Regions from separate parts of the Homo sapiens genome. Here regions 1 and 2 are each linked to region 3. Evidence: fine-mapped expression QTL. A gene starts in region 3. Each other region holds a variant in brackets. All regions are shown on one strand. Distances are from middle to middle.

Region 1 (2,762 bases), 26 kb before region 3:
ATATGAACTTTTTTGGAAACATAACACAATTGTCCCATCATTTATTGTTTTGTAATACACCTTAAATTATTCCAAATGTAAGCATCAAGTTTTTCCACAACATATCTTTATTCAAAATTAGGTGTGATAAGATTGTTTTAAAAGCACCTTCAAAAATAGCCCAGGTTAGCCTTCATAAAAGTCTAATTATTTAGAGGTTTTTCTAGTGGCCTTGGCTTGGCATCTGGGGACAAAGAGATAATATTGTGTAAGAATGTCCTAAGTCCAAACTGCACTGCAGAGGGCAGAAGCCCTTTGGGTGTCTGTCCACATAAATTGATAGGCATGTGTGCTTTTGTGTCTCTTATCTGAAAGAGGAAGAAGGCCTTTGAGCAAGGAGAAAGGAAATAAAAATAGAGGGGATGTTTTGGAGTTCCCCTGCTGCCCTCACAAGCTAGGGAACTAGTTTCACACCTAATGGGAAACCAGAGACCAGAACAGATGCTGACGGATCGTCCTCATGAAAAACTTGGTGAGATTCCAGATACAAGTGGTGCCATGCCTCAGATGACAGAAGAGACAAAGTCGGGGAGAGTCACACCCTTAATCTCCCTCTGCCACAGACCCAGAGCAGCTCCTGGTGGTGGTGGAAGGCACTCCAGAACCTGGGGAGGGTATTGTACTCACAGAGGACTGGGGAGCAGGACAGTGGCATAGCCCCTTGCTTCAGCTGCTTGCCAGCAGGAGCTGTGTCCCTGGGCACATCCCCTGTATTCCCAGAAGGAATTGGGAAGATGGGGAACCGGGGTGCTGGGATCCTGGGTGAGCAGCAGGTGGCTGGAAGCCACTGAGATTTAGGCAAGGATGTGATTGCAGCTGCGTTTGTGCTCACAGGATGGCAACACCTGGAGTACTGGAGCAGCTCAGCACCATATCTCTGTACCTTTCTTTCTCAAGAAATAGGCCCTTTGTCCCCTACAAGTGGCTGGTCACTGCTGAGCTCACCCCAACCTCACGTCCCAGCTGTGCTCATTGTACTTTCACCCTGGTCCCTCTTTTGCTGACCTGCCTCAAGCCTTAGTCCCTTGGAAATGAGACTTTGCCCATTTCTTGCTATCATCTCTCAGAGATTGAAAATAATTGCTGGGCGCAGTGGCTCATGCCTGTAATCCCAGCACTTTGGGAGGCCGAGGTGGGCAAATCACGAGGTCAGGAGATCGAGACCGTCCTGGCTAACACGGTGAAACCCCGTCTCTACTTAAAAAATATAAAAAATTAGCCGGGCGTGGTGGCGGGTGCCTGTAGTCCCAGTTACTCGGGAGACTAAGGCAGGAGAATGGTGTGAGCCCAGGAGGCGGAGCTTGCAGTGAGCCGAGATCACGCCACTGCACTCCAGCCTGGGTGACAGAGTGAGATTCCGTCTCAAATAATAATAATAATAATCATCATCATCATCATCATCATCATCATCATCTGACTGCCAGTGGGGTGCC[CTG/G]TTTGTTGCTGACAGTCTTCCCTGCTGCCTGCCTGGTGAAAGCACCAAGTATTGGTTTGGCCTTGAAATACCTGGAATCCCATTCTACCTGCTAATTGTCACCTCCTCCAGCCCCTCCACCATGTGACCATGTCCTTCTGCCTGATTCTGGGTCCCTCCAGGCCTGGATGGTGTCCCACAATAACACGTCCTCAGTAAGCTGTCAGCAGGCATGTTTAACTCAAGGGGACCAAACTCTGAAAATTACTTCTTGACAATCCTGTCAGTGGCTAATTACAGTTTCATTGACATGAAAATAATTTATAGCCTCTTTTAAGTCATGAAGGCAGATATATTCTATCCTCTTATTACAGGGGATCCTCAGGAAAATTTCCCAAATGGAACAGCAAACAGCCTGCAGTAGCTGTCAATCTTCCCTTCCTGTGAGAACAGGGGGTAGAGTTGATTATGACCACTGTCTCCTCTCTGCATGTCCATACTGGAAAAACAGGCTGTCCATGGGAAAACAGGCTGTGTATACTCATTCCCTGGCGAGAGCCCTCTTTGAACAATCCCCTGCTCCTTTGATATTGAAGCTTCCCATGAACGCTATCTTGGTTTGCCTGGGACTGAGGAATTTAGGGGGACATGGAGCTTTAAGTGCTAAAACTGGGTAAGACCCAGAAGAACTGGAAAGAGTCTGGTGGGCACTGTGGAGATTGAGTAGTTAAAGCTGCTGAGACCCCTTGTTGTTCATCCCAGTACCATGGAGCCTGGGCCCTGGGGGCTCAGGACTACTGCACATTCCCACCTGGATCTGGTAACCAGGAGCAGTAAGGATGGCCCAAACTAAGTGCTATTTGGGCCTTGTCTCAGTCAATAAGTATACTACAAAGTTTATGTTATTTGGGGGTGGGAAAAAGAATCAAACTGTGGCCTGGCAGCTCCAAATGTGGCAGTTCCTTCAACACTAGTCTCCAAACTTTTCTGATTGCATAGCTCTAACAGTTGCACAGCCCCATAAAAATATGCACACATCCTCCTGCAGCAGAGGAGGCCCACACCCAGGAGCTCCCACATAGGACCAGACTTGAGCAAGACATGAACTTCCACTGTGTTAAACCATGGAGAATCTGGGATTTATCCATTAGCACAGCTAATACATTCAACTGGAAAAGAATATCATATTCATTATAAAACAAACATCATAAAAATTAAAGGATGGGGGATCAGGAAGCTGGTTCACACCTGTAATCCCGGGCCTTTGGGAGGCAGAGACAGAAGGATCATTTGAGCCAGGAGTTTGAGA
Region 2 (2,762 bases), 210 kb before region 3:
TTTGTTAAAATCAGAAGCTAAAAAAGAAGGTGGGATTTAATTTACCTGAACATTTTATAACATCTGATCCATTTACATATTAAATGCAGGTAAACACATATTCCAAAATAATGAAAAGACCTTTTAATAAAACTTAAAAACTTAACTCCAAAGTAAAGAAGAGCTCTATTGGAAAGATTACCATATTAGTTATCTATTGCTGTGTAACAACTTATGCTCAAAACATAGCCACTTCAAACAACAAACATTTATTATCTTACATGGTTTTCAAGGGAATGCAGGAGCAGCTTAGCTGGGTGGTTATGGCTCAGGCTCTTCCATAAGGCTACCGTGAAGCTGTCAAGTGGGCTGCAGTCATCTGAAGGCTTGACTGGGGCTGGAGACTCTACTTCATATGTGGCTCCCTCCCATGGCTGCTGACTGGAGGCCTCAGTTCCTCACCACATGGACCTCCCCACAGGGCTGCTTAAGTTTTCTCATGACATGGCAGCTGGCTTCCCCTGAGTCAGCTTCAAGAGAGACCAAGGAGGAAGCCACAGTTCATTTCATGACATACTATCGAAATCACACACCTTCGTTTCTTCATTGTTTCATTCATTAGAAGCAAAATAATTTAAGTCCAGCCACACTCCAGGAGAGAGGGATTAGGTTCTCCCTTCTGAAGGGAGTGTCAAGAATTTGTGAACATATTTGTGGACACCATAATGACCATGAATGGCTTTGGCATTTTATAACATGCTTAAGTGGTACTGGCTCAGGAAAGCTTAGGATGGGAAGAACTGAGCTGGCAAAGGTGAGCAGCTCCATTTTTGAGGATACATAGATCAGATGTGCTGGAGTGAGAGGAGGGATGAAATCATAGGCTCCAAACATACCAGAAATTTCTTTTCTTTCACTTAGCAGTCCTGGACCTGATATCAAAGCTGTGCCACATAGCAGAGAAGCAATACAACATTCTGTGGTCAAATGTGAAGCCTTGCTTTTATTTAAAGTAGGAAACAAAATATCTGCGTGATTATTTATTTATTTATTTATTTATTTATTTTTTGAGATGGAGTCTCACTCTGTCTCCCAGGCTGGAGTGCAGTGGCACAATCTCAGCTCACTGCAACGTCTACCTTCTGGGTTCAAGCAATTCTTCCTGCCTCAGTCTCCTGAGTAGCTGGGATTACAGGCGCCCACCACCATGCCCGGCTAATTTTTTTAATATTTTTAG[T/C]ATAGACGGGGTGTTGCCATGTTGGCCAGACTGGTCTCAAACTCCTGACCTTAGGTGATCTACCCACCTCAGCCTCCCAAAGTGCTGGGATTACAGGCATGAACCACTGTGCCCGGCCGTGTGATTATTTTTTTAACTCTAAACCCAACCTTGTTATTGATAGGATTTTTATTTCTGCCTTAAGAATTCTTTCCATCACCTTTTCATTTTAAGACACTTATCATTTCTATCCCTTCCTTTGTCCCCTGTGCTGTCCTTCCTTCTGAAGTTCTCACCCGGAAAGGCATTACATCTTTGATGCTGCAGTTCACTTCTGTGTGCACCCCTGAGTTCTTCCAGTACATCCTCCAGTTCCTCTGCTTTCCATTTCACAACCTGGTTACAGTTAGTCACACTGTAACTTCCTGTTACTGAGTATTTCAGGGGCCAAAGCTCTCTATGCCCTATGCTGTCCACTTAGTCATCTCTCTCCACATTTGTATTATTCACAGCAAGATGCATGCACACAAATCCTTTAAGTCCGTCAGGCTTTTCTTTCCATTTCCCATTCAAATATGAATCACCTAGCAACATTTATTGAAGACCAATTGCACATGAAGCTGTGTTCCCATTATTGTGAGCCTCACAAAGGAAGTAAAAGCCATGGTCCTTGCCATTAAGAAGTTTATCCTCTACTAAAAGCTGGATTAAAAAATTTTTTTTAAAATAATAACAGCATACAGATTCCCGTTTATATTCAATAGAGTGAAATGTTGTCCAAGTTACAATGATCAAATGCAAGGGTTATTTCTCTGTATACCTTTTAACTGAGAAAGCTAGCCATCTTTTGGATTAGGTAAATGCATGTGCCTTGATGAGAAATACTGCTACAAAAAATTAGTGCCTGCTGTTCACTTCCTAGTATTGTAAACACGTTTCACCCAATCTGGTGAAATTTCAAGGCATGTTTTTGAAACTAAAATAAATAAATAAAACATTTATTAATCCTCTGTAACAAAGATACACCCAATTAATGTAACAAGTAGTTACAACCGATAACTGAAGCATAAGCAAAAGGATAATTGTATTAGTGTCCTAGGGTTTTCTTCTTTTTAAAAAGACGTCAGCACTGTGCATTGTTTTACCTTATTTTTAATGGACTGTTGATCAGAAAGGGGAGTAGGGAAACTGGGTTGCGAAGGGTTAATAAGGAACAAAAAGTGCAACCTGAGGAAGACACAGCTCAGGGAGGAGGACCCAGGGGAGTGTGGAAGCCCCTCAAAGCTCATTAGAGAGATTCAGCTTGTGATACAAGAAGCAATGGGTAGTCATTGTAGGTTTCTGAAAAGAGGAGAGTACTATCTCGATCAAAGTGATTGGCAGGAGAGATGCTAGGAAACAGCATACCTGGAACAAAATAATTAGGACCTGACTGCGTGTGACCCTGGAAATAGGTCCAAAGAAAAAGCAAGAGATTGTGGAAGTGACTGTGGGCAGGGGTGGGGACAGGAAAGGAAGAAAGGCGTCAAATTTGACTTCCAAACCTCCATACTTAAAAAAAACTGAG
Region 3 (2,762 bases):
TGTGGACCTGCAGGCCTAGGATAAAGGCGCATGCAGGTTTGGTAGCACCTGTGAGTCAGGATGCTACCAACAGTGAGCCTTAGACCTGCTAAATTAGGTTTAGCCTAAAGCTGCCTTCTGACATATTTTAAGTTCAGCCTAAAGGTTTCTCCGTACATCGTGAACTATATGCTTCCGTTTTCTGGGAGTCGCTTTCCTTTTTCTGTCCATAAATCTTCTTCTACCACGTGGCAGCCCCAGAGTCTCTCTGAACCTATTCCGGTTCCCCATGCCCAACTGTGAATCGTTCTTTGCTCAATTAAACTCAGTTAAATGTAATTTGTCTAGGGTTTTCCTTTTAACAGATCTAAGTGCTTCTTTAATTAGAAACAAATATCCTGCTCTTCTCCACAACAGATTGTGTGAATCAAACCACAAAACGTGAGTCTGAAGGTTCAAGATCTTCATACAATCTCAAAACAGACTGGCTAGGCAAGACATTGAGCATGCACGGAGGCCTGGACTGGATCCTCAGCTGTGAGGCCTTCCTGCTTCTGGCTGTTTGTGTAACCTGAGCAGTCTACGGCTTGGCCCTATTTCCTGGTACAGGCATACTTGGAAATATAAAGAAATATGCATGCTTGGTAAGAAGTCTTGCACTCTTGCACTCGGACCCCTTTCCCCAGCTGACATTGTAGGTAAGATAATATGAATTGAGCAAATGTGACTCCCATGGAGTAAAAGCCCTCTATTTAACCAGGCAGTCGAGATATTGAATAATCCTAGTGGGAAGCTGTTTTAAAATTTAGAGCTAATTACTTAATCTAAAGCTAATATTTCTGAAGGAAGTTTTTTTCAATCTGATAATCATACCACCATAGGCAGTTTATTTAAGAAAACACATTAATTAAAACATCAACGTTCAAGAAATCACAACCAGGTTTAGAAGCAGGCACGTTTCCTTTGGAACACTTGTAATTAATATTCACACCACTTCCTGCAGGTTAGCAGGCTACTAACGCTCGTTTGAACGGGCTGTGGGTCGTAATCACAGATGATGCAGAATCGCTGAGCTCTGAGGCCCCACAGCGTTCCAGTTGGGAGAACTAATCTCTGGAATGTTCTCAGTCTCTGCTTGCCCCTGGGAAGGAGGGTAGCAGGCGGCATGGGTGACCCTGAGGCGACTGTGCTCTGAGGACCCAGAGCTACCTGCAAGGGCAAGTAGGAAACAAAACACCGGACCCATCTCCCTCCCTCCCTCTCTCTCCCGCAAGCCTTGTCACACACACACACACACGCACACACGCGCACACACACGAACTTCCCATGCCTCTTACTTTGCTGACAGGCCGAGAGAATAGAGACAGCAGCCAGCAGGATCGAGTTCCCGGCCATCTTTCTCACGGAACTATTTGTAGAGCGCACGGGAAGATAAATGGCGCTTCTTGACTTTGAATGCTGACCTTCCTTATCGGGTAAACAAAGTTGGGGACCGGGTGGGGGGAAAAGGCTGATTCAAGCGGCTGAATGACCTTTGCTCTGGAACAGAAGTCAGGAAGGCAGGCAGGTCTGGGGCTGCCGGTCACAGATCTTTATGGGGCTGGGAGTTGCTTCCGGCGTTTGTTTTAAGCCTCTCCCACGGCCAGCGGGCAGGGCTGTAGCTCACTGTGGGACCAGCCCTCCAGCCGCAGTGCCAGTTACACTATCTTCTCTGCCAATGCACAGACTCTCTGGATCCCTTTCATCCCCACGCCCTTCCCTCCTAGGGCCTTGCTGAGACCTTTCTCACCTCCTGTGGAAAAAGTGAGAAGGAACTACTTACTTAATCCTGTTGACATTTTAAATGCTAATTTAAGCCAGTTCTAATGTATTCACGCTCTGAATGGCCGATTTAGGATTTGAACCCAGTCTAGCAGATTACAACTGTGCCCTATCCCCTGCACCAGGCTGCCTCTCACTGTCACCTAGAGACTCTGATAATAATCATACTTTTTTTTTTTAAGACAGGGTCTTGATCTGTCACCCAGGCTGGAGTGTGTGGTGGCACGATCATAGCTCACTGCAGCCTCCAACTCTTGGGCTTAAGTAATCCTCCTGCCTCAGCCTCCCAAGTAGCTAGAACTACAGCCACAAGTCACTGTGCCCAGCCATTTTTAAAAAAATAAACCGGCCGGGCGCGATGGCTCACACTTGTAATCCCAGCACTTTAAGAGGCCAAGGAGGGTGAATCACGAGGTCAGGAGATCAAGACTATCCTGGCTAACACAGTAAAACCCCTTCTCTACTAAAAATACAAAAAATCAGCTGGGCATGGTGGCACGAACCTGTAGTCCCAGCTACGCAGGAGGCTGAGGCAGGAGAATCTGCTCTTTAGAGATGCAGATTCTGGCCTGGAAGGATGGCTCATGCCTGTAATCCCAACAGTTTGGGAGGCTGAAATGGGCAGATGGTTTGAGCTCAGGAGTTCGAGACCAGCCTGGGTAACATGGCAAAACCCCATCTCTTAAAGAAATACAAAAATTAGCAGGGCATGGTGGCACGTGCCTGTAGTCCCAGCTACTTAGGGGGCTGAGGCAAGGGGATTGCTTGAACCCAGGAGCCTGAGACTGCAGTGAGCCAAGGTCGTTCCACTGCACTTCAGCCTGGGTGACAAAGTGAGACCCTGTCTCAAACAAATAATAAAAATAAAGATGCAGCTTCCCAAAAACCAGAGCTGGGGGCCTTTCCTCACCCCATCCTACAGCACCATTAGAGGGTATATCTTGGCTCAAGCTGCTATAACA

Evidence for each region. PIP is the estimated chance that this variant, and not a neighbour inherited with it, causes the effect.
Region 1: its variant is the best candidate, but not a certain one, in a credible set for the expression of MGST2 in whole blood (TOPMed, PIP 0.84).
Region 2: its variant is the best candidate, but not a certain one, in a credible set for the expression of MGST2 in whole blood (TOPMed, PIP 0.80).

What each region holds. Positions count from the first base shown.
Region 1 is chr4:139,690,358-139,693,119 of GRCh38, reverse strand. The region is part of intron 2 of MGST2 (microsomal glutathione S-transferase 2); the gene reads right to left. Among named protein-coding and RNA genes, the nearest start is that of MGST2, 26 kb to the right of the region's middle. RefSeq lists an enhancer at 469-518. The variant CTG/G (reference allele first, on the strand shown) is at 1,473.
Region 2 is chr4:139,871,368-139,874,129 of GRCh38, reverse strand. The region is part of intron 2 of MAML3 (mastermind like transcriptional coactivator 3); the gene reads left to right. Among named protein-coding and RNA genes, the nearest start is that of MGST2, 210 kb to the right of the region's middle. The variant T/C (reference allele first, on the strand shown) is at 1,217.
Region 3 is chr4:139,664,632-139,667,393 of GRCh38, reverse strand. It overlaps MGST2 (microsomal glutathione S-transferase 2), which reads right to left and starts at 1,575. Exons shown (of 5, transcript NM_002413.5): 1 at 1,317-1,575. The coding sequence starts at 1,374. RefSeq lists enhancers at 1,351-1,520, 817-2,016.